2 separate regions of the Homo sapiens genome follow, and region 1 is linked to region 2. A link means that fine-mapping ties the variant in region 2 to the expression of a gene that starts in the linked region. Tissue or cell type: whole blood. Region 2 holds a variant in brackets; the other region holds the start of a gene. All regions are shown on one strand. Distances are between the middles of the regions.

The links. PIP is the estimated chance that this variant, and not a neighbour inherited with it, causes the effect.
Region 1: it holds the start of AP4E1, and the variant in region 2 is fine-mapped to the expression of AP4E1 in whole blood (TOPMed, PIP above 0.99).

What each region holds. Positions count from the first base shown.
Region 1 is chr15:50,905,531-50,913,617 of GRCh38, reverse strand. It overlaps AP4E1 (adaptor related protein complex 4 subunit epsilon 1), which reads right to left and starts at 4,935. Exons shown (of 21, transcript NM_007347.5): 1 at 4,690-4,935; 2 at 1,469-1,540. The coding sequence starts at 4,839. RefSeq lists enhancers at 3,859-4,600, 4,647-4,816, 4,837-5,126, 4,601-5,342.
Region 2 is chr15:51,086,418-51,094,524 of GRCh38, reverse strand. All of the region lies in intron 1 of TNFAIP8L3 (TNF alpha induced protein 8 like 3), which reads left to right. The region is part of intron 1 of MIR4713HG (MIR4713 host gene); the gene reads right to left. Among named protein-coding and RNA genes, the nearest start is that of TNFAIP8L3, 4.4 kb to the left of the region's middle. RefSeq lists a silencer at 95-144 and an enhancer at 1-597. The variant G/A (reference allele first, on the strand shown) is at 4,360.

The DNA.
Region 1 (8,087 bases), 180 kb after region 2:
GCATTTATTTTTAGAGATGAAAGTGCATTCCCCAATGCAAGAATTCTCTTTACAATTTCTCTGACAGCCAACCTTTACATGAACAGCTCTGGGACAGACTACTCTGTAAGATATACACAGAGTTGGATGGCCATAGTGTTATAAAACCTTCCTTTCAAACTCTGCCTTCCTAATTTCTACCTATTTATCTTAGTTCTGCCCAACTTCAGGTTTCTGCCTTGGAACAAGGAAAATTATATACTGATGCCAATCATAAAAAATGGAAATCTAACAAACAAAAACCATTTCTGTTTAACGTTTCTATCTAGTACTATGAAGCATAATTATTTTATCCATAGCCACAGACACACATACATGTATACACACAAACATACATATACATATATACACATGGATATATCAGATTATGTTTTCAGTTTTATTTGCCACATACTATTATTATGACCACAGAAGAAAATATATTCATTCTCTCAGACTTTACAAGTGTTATTCAAATTCACAATCATGTGCTTATGCAAAATGATCGTCCTGATATTTTTACTGGCAGGGAGGGAAAACATTCCCACAGTGGCTTATATACTGAAGACACTCACCAAATATTTGCTGAAGATATGTTGCTTGAAACAAAATCTCATTTAAAAAAAAATCAGGCCAGGCACGGTGGCTCACACCTGTAATCCTAGTACTTTGATTTAGGAGGCTGAGGTGGGTGGATCGCTTGAGGTCAGGAGTGCGATACTAGCCTGGTCAACATGATGAAAACCCCAACTCTACTAAAAATACAAAAATTAGCCAGGCATGGTGGCGGGCACCTGTAGTCCCAGTTACTCAGGAGGCTGAGGCAGGAGAATCGGTTGAATCCAGGAGGCAGAGGTTGCAGTGAGCTGAGATCACGCCACGCCACTGCACTCCAGCTTGGGCAACAGAGCGAGACTCCGTCTCAAAAAAAAAAAAAAAAAATCAAACTGAGTTTTAATCTAGCTATGCTGGGACAGCCCCACAGTGGCCTGCATAATAATGAATGACCATTCATTAAATAGTTGCTGAATATTGTTTGAAAAATCAGATTATGTAGAACAAACTTTAAAAACAACTAGGTCTTAAATAATAAAATTAGATATACCTACAATATATTAATTCAGGTCTGAAAATATCATGTTGAAATCCCAACCTTTTCCAAATGCATAACATTAAAAACATCAGATCAGCACTAGGGTCCCAAGAGTATCTCCACATTTATGTAATCATCATCACATTAGCCCTGACTTCACATAGGCAAATCTTGTTCTGGTGCAAACCAGTCAACAATAAAAGGCTAAAGTTAACATCTGAGTTGCTACCAACTATAATTCATTTTGACTATGATAAATCAAATTTTAGCAACCGATCATCAGTTAGATGCCACTATTGAGTCCACAGTGACTAGATTTCAAATTCAAATGTGTTGGCACTGACTATGCAAACCTACCAGTGTTGTAGTAGGAGCAGAAACAGTCGCTTTCAGACTACTCAGTTCCTGCTGGATTAATTTTTCTTCTTCCTGAGAAAGTGAAAATATTTAAATGCTTGATTAACTGTCTTTTAAAACTGTAACAGCATTTATCTAAACGGAAAAATATAATTTACAATACTTTTAATTTAAAAGAAACATTATTTTAAAGGAGAGTTACAAATACTATCTGCTTACGATCTATCTAAAGGCATTTCTCCAAACCTCAGAACCATCCCTGGAGAGAATAAATATTTCCAGGCTAACCCATCCTTCCTCTTTTCTTTACTCAGTTACTTCCCCTTAATGGTAGAATAGCAGAAAATGTTTTTTTTTAAAACTAAAGGTGGAAGCCGGGCACAACAGCTCATGCCTGTAATCCCAGCACTTTGGGAGGCCAAGGCGAGTGAATCACTTGAGGTCAGCAGTTTGAGACCAGCCTGGCCAACATGGCAAAACCCCGTCCCTACTAAAAATACAAACATTAGCTGGGGGTCCTGTAATCCCAGATACTCGAGAGGCTGAGGCAGGGGCAGGAGAATCGCTTGAACCCGGGAAGTGAATGTTGCAGTGAGCCGAGATCGTACCACTGCACTCCAGCCTGGGTAACAGAGCAAGACTCCATCTAAAAAAAAAAAAAAAAAAAAAATTAAAGGTGGAGAGAGAGTAGAAATTCTCCATGTATTGGCCCAAGAAAAGAGTCTCATCTCACATCTTCCCCTTAGAAGTAAAAAGTCTTCATGGAATTAAGAAACAGGGTAAGAAAGCAGAAACAGAAATAGGTCTTTTTCCCTTAAACTACATTCTTCTTCCCTGTCTTTTCCTCATTCCCCAAATCCTTTCCATAACTTCCTATCTCAGACACATACCAATGTGGTCACTCCTACTGTCTGCATTGTATGTTATCTCCCTAAGCACTTAAAAAATTGGCCCCATTTTTTTTTGGCTAATATCATGCTACCTTTAAATTACACACTGAATTACATGTTCATCAGATGGCTATTCAAAAGCCACTAGTGACGTACTGATACACGTGGATGCCTATCTACAGTTTCAAACTGCTATTTAAGACCAAAAATAACTTTTTAAAAAATTTTATTGAGGATCCCTTAAAAATTAGCAAAGGACAAAAACCTTAAGAAAAACAACATTATTAAGGCCACAAATGGCCAGGCGTGGTGGCTCACGCCTGTAATCCCAGCACTTTGGGAGGCCAAGGCCAAGGCAGGTGGATTACCTGAGGTCAGGAGTTCAAGACCAGCCTGGCCAACATGGCGAAACCCTGTCTCTACTAAAAATATAAAAATTAGCCGGGTATGGTGACGTGTGCCTGTAATCCCAGCTACCAGGGAGGCTGAGGCAGAAGAATCACTTGAACCCAGGAAGCAGAAGTTGCAGTGAGCCAAGATTGCACCACTGCATTCCAGCCTGGGCGACAGAGTGAGACTCCATCTCAAAAACAAAACAAAACAAGACAAGCCCACAAGTAATGATTCTGGAATGTGAAGCAGGTTCTCTCCGGATAGCATCAACTTATTAGAGCTGCCAAAAAAATATTTTTTTTAAACCTTCAGAGCACTTTCTTTTCTGTCTTTCCTTCTCTTTTAGCACTTCTATTGCATTGTAGTCATGCTTATACTTGTCTTAAGCCCAAAACGAATGACTAATTCCTTGGGAAAAGGGAATGTGTTTAATTCTATTTTCCTGTGTCTAACACATAACCTTGTTCCATAAACATCTGTTGAACAAATAATGACATTAACACGTGCTCTTTTTAAGATATAAACTCCTTGTAGCTGTGAATCGGTATACTACACAATCCGTGCAACCATCGAGCGCCTGTGGGGGCCCGGCGCGGTGGCTCATGCCTGTAATCCCAGCACTTTGGGAGGCCGAAGTGAGCGAACACTTGAGGTCAGTTCAAGACCAGCCTGCCCAACATGGTGAAATCCTGTCTCTACTAAAAATACAAAAATTAGCCGGGCGTAGTGGCATACGCCTATAATCCCAGCTACTTGGGAGGCTGAGGCAGGAGAATCGCTTGAACCCGGGAGGCAGACGCTCCAGTGAGCCAAGATCGCACCATCGCACTCCAGCCTGGGCGACAGAGCGAGACTCCGTCATTAAAAATTTAAAAATTTTAAGGCCGGGCAGGGTAGCTCACGCACGTAATCCCAACACTTTGGGACGCCAAGGCGGGCGGATCGCGAGGTCAGGAGATCGAGACCATCCTCGCTAACACGGTGAAACCCCGTCTCTACGAAAAGTACAAAAAATTAGCCAGGCAGTGGCGGGCACTTGTAGTCCCAGCTACTCGGGAAGCTGAGGCAGGAGAATGGCGTGAACCCGGAAGGCGGAGCTTGTAGTGAGCCCAGATCGCGCCACTGCACTCCAGCCTGCGCGACAGAGCGAGACTCCGTCTCAAAAAAAAACAAAAATTAAAATTTTTAAAACCTTAAGGCTCCAGCGAGCCGAGATCGAGATCGCACCATTGCACTCCAGCCTGGGCGACAGAGAGAGACTCCGTCAATAAAAATTTAAAAATTTTAAAAGTTTAAGAATTTTTATAACTGCTCATTTTCAAAGCCCACTTGAGGCAGAGACTTAGCAAATTTTACATTTTGAGAGAACTGTGCTTTTTCTTTGCCCAACACGTTGTTGTAACCCAAGAACCTCAAGCTCCCCAAAGATATTCAACAAGAGGCTCACAGGATCTCTTCAGGTATGCGACATCTGAACTGTTGTTCAGTTGAAGGCACCGGGGGAGAGAAGGAAACTGAGTAGGGAAAAAAAACTTTGTGGAAGGTAAATAATGTCTGACACTTCCATCGCACTAGGTATTTTCACACGCTTGACATCTCACCCAATCCTCAAAACAAACAAAAAACCTATGAATTATGTATCAGTACTTTTCCACCACAACGTTGAGAAAACACACGGAGGCTCAGAGGTTACAGAGATGTGCCCCCGATCAAAGAGTCAGTGTCAGAACTAACTGTGGAAACTCGGCTTCCCTGCTGTCAGTCCCAGCAGGAAAGTGAAGCTTCCAGGCAGACGAAAGGACGAACCGACACAGCAGCCCCTGAGCCCCGCCGGAGGGCTAACCCCAGAGGCCCTGAAGTCTCGCCGCCCGGCCAGGGCCTCCTGGCGCGGGGGCCTCACTCCGATGTCCCTGAGCTCCCGGGCCGGCGGGCACCTACGTGCTTGGAGGTGAGGGCTGTGATGCCGCGGACAAGGCTGCCCAGCCTCGAGGAGAAGGACGCCTTGGCGGCCGCGGGCCCACCACCGGGCTGGTTCTGCAGAAAGAGTCCCGGCAGCGCCGTCAGCGTCTTCTCCACTATGTCGCTCATCGCCGCCGCCGCCCGCGATGCCGCCGCCGCCCGCGATCCCGTAGCCGCCCGGCTTCATGCCCGGCCGCCGCTGCCGGCCCGGCCTCCGTAGGCACTTCCTGTTTTTTGAATAAGAAATCTTTATTGGCGTCCCACCTGAACAAGTTCAGCGTCGTTCTCGCGAGAGGCCACCAGAGGGCGCAAGAGACCGCGGGGGTGGAAAAGGCCGCTCGCTCGAGATTGCGCGCGTAAGTAGACCTCCTTTCTCGCGACGGGGTAGCGGTTCCGGAATCCCCCAGAACCGTGAGTCCTCCTGAGGAAGCCGTCGGGGGCCTGGCCCTGTTAGGCACTGTCTCCCAGAGTCCCCCTTTCCCACTAGCCGCCTCCGCGTAGCCCGAGACCGCGTCAGGAGTTGCGTCTTCCTGGCTGCGCCTTTTTCGGGACGTCCCCGCGCCGTCCGCCGCCTCTCACTGTCCCCGGAGCGCGCGCCACCCGCCCGCTTCCCACAGGCGGTTTCACGCGGGTCCCCGGCGCCGCGCGCGGCTCCGGCCCTGGCGACTCTTGGGACACCCGAGTAGTTGCGTGATAGCGGGGCTGTCCTGAGGATTCGGCGTGCCAGGTTGAGAGCCCGTCGCGTGCCGGGGACTCGCGGCCACTGTCGCTTCCCGTCCGCCCCTCTTCTCCTGGGATTTGGGGAGGTGGGCGGGAAAGAGAACTGGTCGGCGGCCACCCTTGCCGACTCCTCCTCAGCAGGTCGCAGTTGAAAGGTCATCCTTCTAGAGCCCACTCCCCTGGCCCGGCGGGCAAGGATAGGTCTCCAAGTCCCACCCTCTCACAGCGCTCGGTTCTGTTCCACTTTAGAACAGGTCGCAGTTGCCACTACGTAAACAGCTCCCCATAGAGAGAGTATTTTATTCATTCCGATTGCTCCGTCTTTTATCTAGAACAGAGTCTGGTACAATGGCTCTCGAAATGTGGTCTGGTGACCTCAGGGTCGCTGAGACCCTTCTAGGGAATTCACAAAGTCAAAACAACATTGATAACGTTTCTTACGTGTTATTTGCCGTTTTTACCCTCATTCTGTTGGAAATGTACAGAGTTTTCAAGCGGCTAGATGACGATTGACTAGCTGGTAAAATGTATCCTGGAGTATCCTTGTGTTTTCTAGAATTTTCTAAGGTAGTAGGTTTAGGGCATAAATACGTGCGTTTTCAGAGATTAATGCAATTTGCTCTCAGTACTCCTAGTGTGTTTCTAGGAGGTAGGTTAGGTAGGTGGTGATAGCCTCCCTTCAAGGGGAACAAACTTGCTAAATAAATAGAACAAACCAGCCCATAGTGTACAAACCACATCCGAGGCTCCTGGTTAGAAAATTTTGCAGCAAAGAGGTACGAGAGCAGAAGGGAAAATCCCCAAACTCTCACAAGCGCAGAAACCCATGATCAGTGTCGTTGGGCTGAATTATACTCATTATAATAGTAAAAAAAAAAAAAAAAAAAAAACACCACTCCTGGGTGAAGATTTAAGATACTAATAAGACATGCAGTGTATGTACTAGCATATACAACCACAGCGCACATGGCGACAGAAAACCAGAGAACGTGCTTAATAGCAGCACCCGTTCTCCCCGCTTCATGAATGATCCTGTGAGACTCCTACAAAGGGAGTTTCCCCAGTGTCAGTGCATGCTGTCTCACCTTTGAGCAGCCCGCTCTGATCAGCTGTGAGGGTGTACTTTCGCTTTGCAATAAACTCTTTTGCTTGCTTTTACTTTGGACTTCAAAATTATTTTGCACCGCGAAGTCCAGAACCTCAACCGGCCCACCAGCTACAGCTACACTTACAAGCTATCTTCGGTTATACCTGCTCTAATCTCTGTAACCTCCTTGTCACCTAATAAATGAGTTTTTTTGAAATCCTGAAGTTGTTTTAATACCTATATGGGAACATAAGAAAAAAGTTCAATTTGTTGGCTTGTCTCGCAAGAATATTTTTTAATATATTGAGAACATTTTAAAATATTTAAACTTTATCTAAAAGGGATACTCATTTATTCATTTAATTTTTTTTTTTTCAGAGTCTCGCTCTATCACCCAGACTGGAATGCAGTGGCACAATCTGGGTTCACTGCAGCCTCCTCCCCCTGGGTTCAAGCAATTCTCCTGCCTCAGCCTCCCGAGTAGCTGGGATTACAGGCGCCCGCCACCATGCCCGGCTAATTTTTGTATTTTTAGTAAACACAGAGTTTCACCATTTTGGCCAGGCTGGTCTCGAACTCCTGACCTCAGGTGATCCGCCCACCTCAGCCTCCCAAAGTGCTGGGATTACAAGCGCGAGCCACTGCGCCCAGCCAGAAAGGGATACTCTTTTAGAATTTAATTTTGTTATTTTATTATTATTTTTTGAGATGGTGTCTCGCTCTGTTGCCCAGGATGGAGTGCAGTGGTGTGATCTCGGCCCACTGCAACCTCCGCCTCCCAGGTTCAAGCAGTTCTCCTGCCTCAGCCTCCCGAGTAGCTGGGATTACAGGTGCGTGCCACCACACCCGGCTAATTTTTTGTATTTTTAGTAGAGATGTGGTTTCACCACGTTGGCCAGGATGGCCTCGGTCTCCTGACCTCATGATCTGCCCGCCTCAGCCACTCAAAGTGCTGGGATTACAGGTGTGAGCCACCACGCCCTGCCTAGAATTTAATATTTTGTCGTCCGGGCGCGGTGGTTTATGCCTATATTCTAGCACTTTGGGAGGCCAAGGCGGGCAGATTGTCTGAGCTCAGGAGTTCCAGACCAACCTGGCCAACATGGTGAAACCCCGTCTCTACTAAAAATACAAAATATTCGGACAGGCACGGTGGCTCCCACCTGTAATCACAGCACTTTGGGAGGCCAAGGTGCACAGACCACAAGGTCAGGATATCAAGACCAGCCTGGCCAACCTATGACTCTACTAAAAAAATACAGAAATTAGCCGGGCATGGTGGCGTGCGCCCGTAATCCCAGCTACTCGGGAGGCTGAGGCAGGAGAATTGCTGGGACCCGGGAGGCGGAGGTTGCAGTGAGCCGAGATTTCACCACTGCACTCCAGCGTGGGCGACAGAGCAAGACTCCACCTCAAAAAAAAAAAAATACAAAAAATTTAGCCGGGCATGGTGGCACACCTGTAGTCCCAACTACTTGGGAAGCTGAGGCAGGAGAATTGCTTGAACCTAGGAGGCGAAGGTTGCAGTGAGCCAAGATCGCACCACTGTACTCCAGCCTGGGTGACAGAG
Region 2 (8,107 bases):
GCCCAGGCGGGTGGGCTGGGGCTGGGGAGGACGGGAGGCTGGGGCATGAAATCGGGAAGCCGATCCTCAGCAGCCCGACCCCTTCCAGGCCAAGACTGGGGATTGCTCCGCGTCGTGAGTTTGCTTTGGGGCTTCCCCCAACCCCATTGCACTTGGGCGCGCGGGAGGGAGGGAAGGTGCATTTAGGGGTGGCTCTCCTTGCTGCCAGTCTCCCGCGGCGGGCTCTGGTCGCCCGGGCTGGGTGGGGGCGGGGAAGGGTTCGGGAATCCGCGTACTGTAGTTTGCTGCAGAGAGGGTTGCAACACATCTGCCTTTTGAAATAACTTTCCGAGCGCGGGCCGGGTCCTCGAACCTGGGGCGCCGGGACTGCGCTGCGGCGCAGGTGACTGGGTCCAAGAACGTGACTGGGGGCTCTGAACAGAAAAGGCCTCGCGAGTGGTTGGGGCAGGGGTCAAACCACAGCTTGCGGCCGCGGTTCCCGAGGCTGCTAGGAGAGCCCATGCACAGGGTCCATCGCTGCCGCGCAGCCGGCGGAGAAGGTCCAGAAGGTCCCCGCGGACTGGTCCCCGAACACAGACGCAGGGGCGCGCGCCTCCCGACTTCGCCTTTAAGAGGCCCCGCCGGCTTTTCACAATCGATAGTTATTAAAGCAATAGGTGGATGCTTACTTAGGGAAGAAAAAAAATGAATGTCCTCCCCCGCCTCTCCCTGATACTGAGCAACAGGAGGAAGCCACCCACAGCCGTGGGTCGACTTGCCGCCGGTCTCTGCCCACCTCCACCGGTCCGCTCCGCCCCCCACCCACGGGTCTACGCACCTAGGACCCGCTCGCCCTCCTCACGTGCCCACAGCTCCCGGCGCTTGTGCAGCTCTGAAGGTTAGCTGTGGGCCTGCAGACCCGTGACCTGCGGGCTGGGACCCTCCTGTACAGACCGCGGCCCTGGCTAAGCCCCCACTCTTCCCAGTGTCACACTAGAGTACTGACGGTGGGGACCAAGTAACAGAAGGCACCATCAGTCCAGCCGTGGGTGTAGGAAAGAGAGGTTCGGGAACCAAGCAGGACAGTGCCCTGCGTATATTATTAATACCCTTTCATCCTCACAGCCCCTGGCCAGGCAGTTATTTTCATTTTACAGAGATTCCCATAGAGTAAAGGGCTTGCCCACTTCTCACAGCCAGGGAGTAGCCAGGACCCAGTGACGCCCTTCACCCTGCATCAGACCCCACAGAGGGTGGCTGTGGCCCGCACCTTTGGGTGGGTGGGAAGGGCCAAGGCTGGCGGAAAGGAAATGCCAAGATGCGTGTATTTAAGGATTCCTGTGTGTGTGCAAGTGCCACCTGCTTTGCCTAGGTATGATATAATTCATAAACATGAGCCCTTTGCATGCCTGTATGTTTCTGTGACTATAAAGTGCTGAGATTTTGCTTCACAGGTGACTTGTGGATCTCCTCTCATCATTTAAAAGTTCCAGTAGATGTTTTGTGTGTATCTATTTCGAGAGCGCAAGCGGGAAGGGGACATTGACCCTGACGCTTAACTCTCTCAAAATCCTAAGAACAACATTCTCTGTGCTCCCCTGCCCAACCCTCTATCTCTTCTTCTGGTTGAAGTTAAGGGGTTGAGGGAGAAGCGGGAGGAGGATAAGGAGGCTTAGAGAAAGAGGAAGGAAGAGAAGCCGGGGGCAGGGAGGAGAATCTTCAGAATCCCTGGTACTTGGGTGAAAGGGAAGGAAAAGAATTCTGCTGCACCCTGTTGTTTTCTCTCTCCAGCCTGACCCAGTGTTTAATATCCCTGTTGTATTCACGGTCAGTTTGTGTCAGAAGGCCTCTGCGTAGCTGACAGCAAACATCACTAAGGTCAGATGGGCCCCATGAAGAACAGGGCAGACAGCTCTCGTGAGCTGTCACTATTTGTTTGCACCTTACTGTTTTCTGCAGTTGTTTCTTCTTTCTGCGTGTGCTTGAATCTCACACGTTGAACATGTATTTTAATGTCACAAGCCATTCTGCTAAATGGCAGTCAGTCTCACGCATTATATTCCATCTTAAAGTATTCTCCTGTATGACAGTGCTTCAAAGCTGGATGTTAATTCACCACCTTGCTAGGGCTGCATCCTGTCAAATGGAAACCGTTGTTGCAGATTCAGATACAGGTTAGATAACAGGTGTGTTCTCCTTAGAGATTGACCTTTGTCTCTACAAGAAACTTGACATTCATCCATGGACCTGTATCTATGAAAGCTGAATGGGTGTAACTGAGAAGTACAGCAGAGTGAGTGGGACCTCTTGGAGTACTTATATGTGTGTGTGTACCTGCCTCACAGGGAGTTGAGACATAAGGGCTGCTTCCTCATCCATGCCTTTCCATTTCCTGAATTTATGAAAAAGCCCTGCCATAAGATGGACATTGTAAGTGTAAAAGGCTGGACTCTGGAATTGAACAGACCTGAGTTTCAGTCTGCACCTCATGGGCAAGTTATTTAACATCTCCAACCTCAGTTTCCCACTCTGTAAAATGAGGATAACAGTAGTACCACAGGGGTTTATGAAGATTCAGTATAATAACACGAGAGGTGTTCCTGGTAATCATTTAGTAAATGGTAGCTGTTATTTTGATTATTACCTGATTGGATTATTTGTTGTAAGAATACTGCTAAATAATGAACTCTAGTGTTTTAAAATATAAATGCATGTTTAAAACAATTAATGTTGCTGCTGTTATTATCACATTAATATAACTGCCTAAAGAGATTTGTTTTGAATTTTCTCCTTTTCAGTCTCTTGTTCATTATCTCTGGTGTGTGCACGTGTGTGTGTGTGTGTGTGTGTGTGTGTGTGTGTGTGTGTGCTTGAGGAGGTCTTTTTAGTTTACCTCTTCTCATCTTCATCCATCTTCCAGCACAAGGCATGAAGATGGGGATATTCCAACCTGCTGCTTTCACCAGCTTCTCCTATGCCTCTAGGGAAAGTTATAAAAAAAACAGAACCCCTTACTCAGTCCACCTGCTAATGTGGAGATGAAAGCGTTTCTTCTTTCATGGTGCTTCAAGTGGAAGAAGAGGAGGCAATCCCCTGCCCTCCACCTCCCACATTCCATTGGTAAACCTTTTCCCTTCAAGGTGGCAGGAACCATCATGGTCACCTTTCTAGTCACCTATTGGCAGAGGACAAAGACAACTCACTTTTTACTGTACTACTTTCAAGAGACTCTTCCAAAGTTCCCCCCACTTTGTGCGTGCAGAGCAGATCTCTCATAGAGCAACACGCTGCAGTGGAGGGTGGGGCGGAGGATGAAATTTGTCTCCATCTGCATTTTCTGTTTTTCAGGAAGCACAGAATGATGCTTCTATGTCATTGTGCTGCCTGCATTCTCCTCTGCCTTTCTGTCATTTTATGGATCTTTCTATGATTAGGGAAGAGGCAAGGTTTATGGAACACTGGATTCTTTCCAGAGACCCAACTTGGCACTCTTTCCTTTGGCAAACCCACCATCCATCTCTCAGAAATCCTAGAGCTTGGTGTATTCACTTGGGAGTGGTTAAGTCTTTCCTAAGAAGCAACAGGAGAGTAAACAGCGACGTCAGTTTTTTCCCCTTTCTGGCTTGGAAGATCAAGACAGCCTACCCAGCTGAGGGCAGATAAGCTCCTTCCTCCCACAAATAGATGGTCCAGGGCAATCAAGCTGATGGTGCCCTTGTGCCTGGGTCGGTGCTGCAGAAAAGCATTTCCATGTGATGGAGTCAGAATGTGGTAGGGGAACCACAAGAGAAAAACAGGACTGGGAAAACACCAGGCCCCTAACTCTGCCCTTCCTCTCCCTCTCCTCCCCTACATGCTTAGCTTGGTCCACATGAACCAACTGAAGGAATGGATAGGATTCAATAGGATCCTGTTGAGGAGGTGGCAGGTGAAAGGGAAAGACATTCCAGAAGTCATACAGCTTGAGAAAAGACACAAATAAACAGGAAGGCAGCTAGAGTAGAGGGCGCATACTGGGGAGTTCTGGGAGATAAAGCTAAGCGAGTACAGGGAGTAAGTTGGTCTTGGCAGGGCTTCTGGAGCCCCCATGATTCTTGAGCAGAGATGTGACCAAATGAAAGCTGAGTTTTCAGAATGTACATCTGGCAGAGATGGAGAGATGCAAGATTTGCCTGGACTTGGCACCTCAACTCCCAGGGTATGGCCACAACATCAGAGAAGGTAGTGGCACTAAGGCAAGATGGAAGAGGGAGGGTGCAAATGGCATTTCAGAGAAATCAACAACAGAAGTTGGTGACAGATTGTACAAAAGCAGTGAAAGGAGAGGGAGAGTTGAAGGAGACAGTGACATGTTGTGTTGGGTAACGTTCTCTGGAGGCA[G/A]GGAAATGCAGGAGACAGGCTCCCCCACCCCACAGACGCTGCCTCTTCCTTCAGGCACTTAGCAGTGGTGTTTGGGGTAAAGATTCTTTTCCCCTTTGACATTAAGTTTCTCAGGTGCATTAGTTTTGAGGCACTGTGAGGTTTGAGGGTTTGTTGATTCTCATTGCTAGGTTCCTTGCAGAGGCTGTTTAGTAATCTTTGTCTACTGACAGATTGAAGATAAATGGGCTGGCCTGCTAAGGGCAAGGACAGCCTGGGAATGATGTGCCATTTGGTTATTAGTCATATTCCCATTTCTTGTTCCTGTTTGTTGAAATTTGCACGGATCTCTGCCTCATCCACAGAGTAAGCTGTAGCTGCTTTCGGAGTCAGGACCTTGTCTTGTGCTTCTTCATGTTCCTGGGATTTTATGGACATAGTAAGTGAATGAGCATCTTGAGGAACCTCCTAAGAACTTTGCCCTAAAAGGCCAGACCAGCAGCCAGAAACCTGTCCTATAAAGTAGACAGGATGCCAAGGCTTTCCCTCAGTGTTTTGTTTTGTTTTAGTGTTTTAAGATTTCTGTACTGTCTGGGACTCTGTGTTAGGAATTATGGGAAATGCAAAGAGAGATAAGGACACAGTTCACCCTGTCCTCCAGGACTTGACATTGGATGAGGAGACAGGGTATGTCTACTGATGACCACAGCCTAAGCCAGTGCATGAAGACTCCTCACCTCCCTTACCTGGCATCATATCCACAACCACATATCCCTTGACACCAGCCCTTCCTATTGCATACTTTATGGTTATTCCTGTGCTGGACTGTTAGTTAGCTTCCTAAGGACAAGGACTGGGTCTTTTTCATCTGTATCAGCCCATGCCACCCATGTCCCCTAAGCATAGTGGCAGGTTGCTGGCTGAATAGGTAGGTGGGTGGGTGGGCGGATGGATGGATGGATGAATGGATGGTGTTGTGGGTTGGTTTGCTAGGAAGCAGACTGTGAGATGGAGGTCAGCAGCATGTACAAGGTTTATTTGGGACTTCTCTTGGAATTAATAACTGTAGAAGGCAAGGGAAAAAAGGGGGAAGGGAAGGGAGCAGGACTGGGCAGAGAAGCTGAGCTACCATGTAGACCCAACAGCCTCAGTTGAGCCCATGGGAACTCTGGAGCTAGAATGGCTCATCAGAACTATTCTGAGTTGGGGTGAGAGGCCAGGTCTTTATACCTTTACACCCCCAAAATAAGCAGTCATTAAAGGCAAGTCATTTCAAGGAACTAGGAATAACCTTGAGTGAGGCTGTTCCCTCCAGCTGAGGGCTTCTGCAGGTAGCACTACCAGCCACTTGTGGAGGAAGTCCTTTGTTCCTGAAGGGGAGTCCGTGCAGCACATGGCAGTGGTCACCACAGGTGGCCTCCACAGATCTTTAGGACTGTTTACTAGGGATGGCAGGCCTGTCTACCAGCAGAATTCAGGGGATAGTTGTTGAACTGCAAACTTTGTCTAGACCTCTTTGGGGCAGTTTCGGTTGCCAGATTAAAGTGGCCATTCTAGACCTCATAGCTCTGAATCCAACTGTTCAATCCACACAGTCCAGTAGATGCTGGCTGATCAGCTGTTTTGTGTTCAGAGTGGTGCCAGGTGCTGTGATAGTATACAGAAATGCATTTAGATGTGCTCCTGCCTTCCAGAGGTTTGTAGCCATATTGGGGAGAGAAAACCCACCTCAAACTGGATCTGTAAAACTGGGCAGCACCAGCAGTAATTGGTGCAGGATTTGGAGCATAGGGCAATGTGATTTGGAATTCTAGTGGGAAGGCTTCTTAAGGTGAAGACTGAGTGTATATGAATATATACATGGAAAGCTCTATTTCCTATGTTATTTTTCTCATAAAAAATACAGCACTTGCCTTTTTATTTGTCAACAAAGCTAAATTTTAGTCACACTTTCTATTAGCATAGTTCCCTAACTGGTTCATTTCCCTTCAGCATTACCCTTGGCTCCCATTCGAATTCACATGTAAATCTCTATAAAGACACTACATAAATAACTTTGTTTTGTTTTTCAGTCACTTGGCTTCCAACTCTTTATGTAAAATGCCTATGTAGGTGGATGTTTGGGCTGTATTCTATACAAATATAGAAATAAAAGGATAGAGAAGAAGAATTTAAAAGACAAGTTTCCTCTAAAAATCCAATCCAAAAAATCATATCAGGAGAGCAAATATCCTCCCCCTTCCCATATATATATATATATATATATAAAGGTATGCTAGAAAAATTTTATTTTATTACATATCAGAAATGTTCTTTTTAGGCAATGGCATGGGACAAATTCTGAGTCTGCTTTAGAACAATCTTCACGTTCATATTGGGTTTCCTAAGCATCATTGCCTGGGAATAAATTTGAGCCTGTTCATGGAAAATCTACCAGTGTGCATACTGTAAAAATGGAAGGCTTGGCAGCACAGAAAGTGCTAGACACACCCTAATAGAAACCAGTATTTTGTAACTCAGTTCTCTGGGAAAAAAAGGAGACACTTGGTGGTGTCCAATATTGCTTTAAACTATTGAAAAACCACAGGGGCAGCCACTGGCTTCTAGGTTGTGTTTCAGAAGTAAAATGTGCTTTCTGGGAAAATATTCTGGCCATGAAAGGAAGCATGTTAGCCATACGTAGCTTCATGGAGACTCCTGGTTTATATTTTTGTAGTAGAAGCATCCAGTTTCACATGAGGGAGGAGATTCTGGAAGGAGCTGTTGCTAGTGAGCACACACATCCCACACTCCTGATTTGGAGCCTGTGGGTTATGCTGGGAAGGTGGGCAAATACGAAGTCAAATACGGGAGGTAGGTGAGGGGAGCCATCTGCCCAGCAGGCCTCTGTGGCAGCTCTTTCCTGCCACAATTGAGTCATGGCTCCTTGGTTTCCTTTGGATAAGACTGAGAAAGTGAGGGTGGGAAGGCTGGGATTGGGGGTTACAGGATAAGAGAAACCAGGGTTTAAGAAATTGTGAGCTGGGTGCAGTGGCTCACGCCTGTAATCCCAGCACTTTGGGAGGCTGAGGCGGGTGGATCACCTGAGGTCAGAAGTTCAAGACCAGCCATCTCTACTAAAAATACAAAAATTAGCTGGGCATGGTGGTGCATGCCTGCAATCCTAGCTACTCGGGAGGCTGAGGCAGGAGAATTGCTTGAACTCGGGAGGCAGAAGTTGCAGTGAGCCTAGATCGTGCCACTGCACTCCAGCCTGGGCAAAAGAGAGACTCTGACTCCAAAAAAAAAAAAAGAAGTTGTAGCAAAACAAGATGAGAAATAAGATGGCATGATCCTTGCCAGCCCAAGGTCAGCCCCAGAGGGCTGTTACTGAACATAAAAGTATAATGATGTTTTACTTTTTATTTATCCTATATTAATTAAGCACTTACAATGTATTCGGGACTGGGTTAATTGTTTATATGGTAGTTGATCCTTATACCAGCCTTCTGGGCTATGTACTATAAATAGCCCCAATTTATAGAACAGAAAACCAAACACAGAGAGGTTAAGTAACCTGCTCAGGGTTGCACAGCTTGTCAGTAGAAATGAAGCCAGTCTAACTCCAGAGACTCTTCTCTTGCACCAGGTAGACTACGTAATTAGATTCACGGATGCCACCAGGCTGTCTTGCATCCCCCACACAGCTCCCACGGTTCCCAGAACCCTAACCCTTAGGCTCCCTCTGTTAGGTGAGGGCATTCTGCCTCCACAAAGGCCTGCTTTAAGC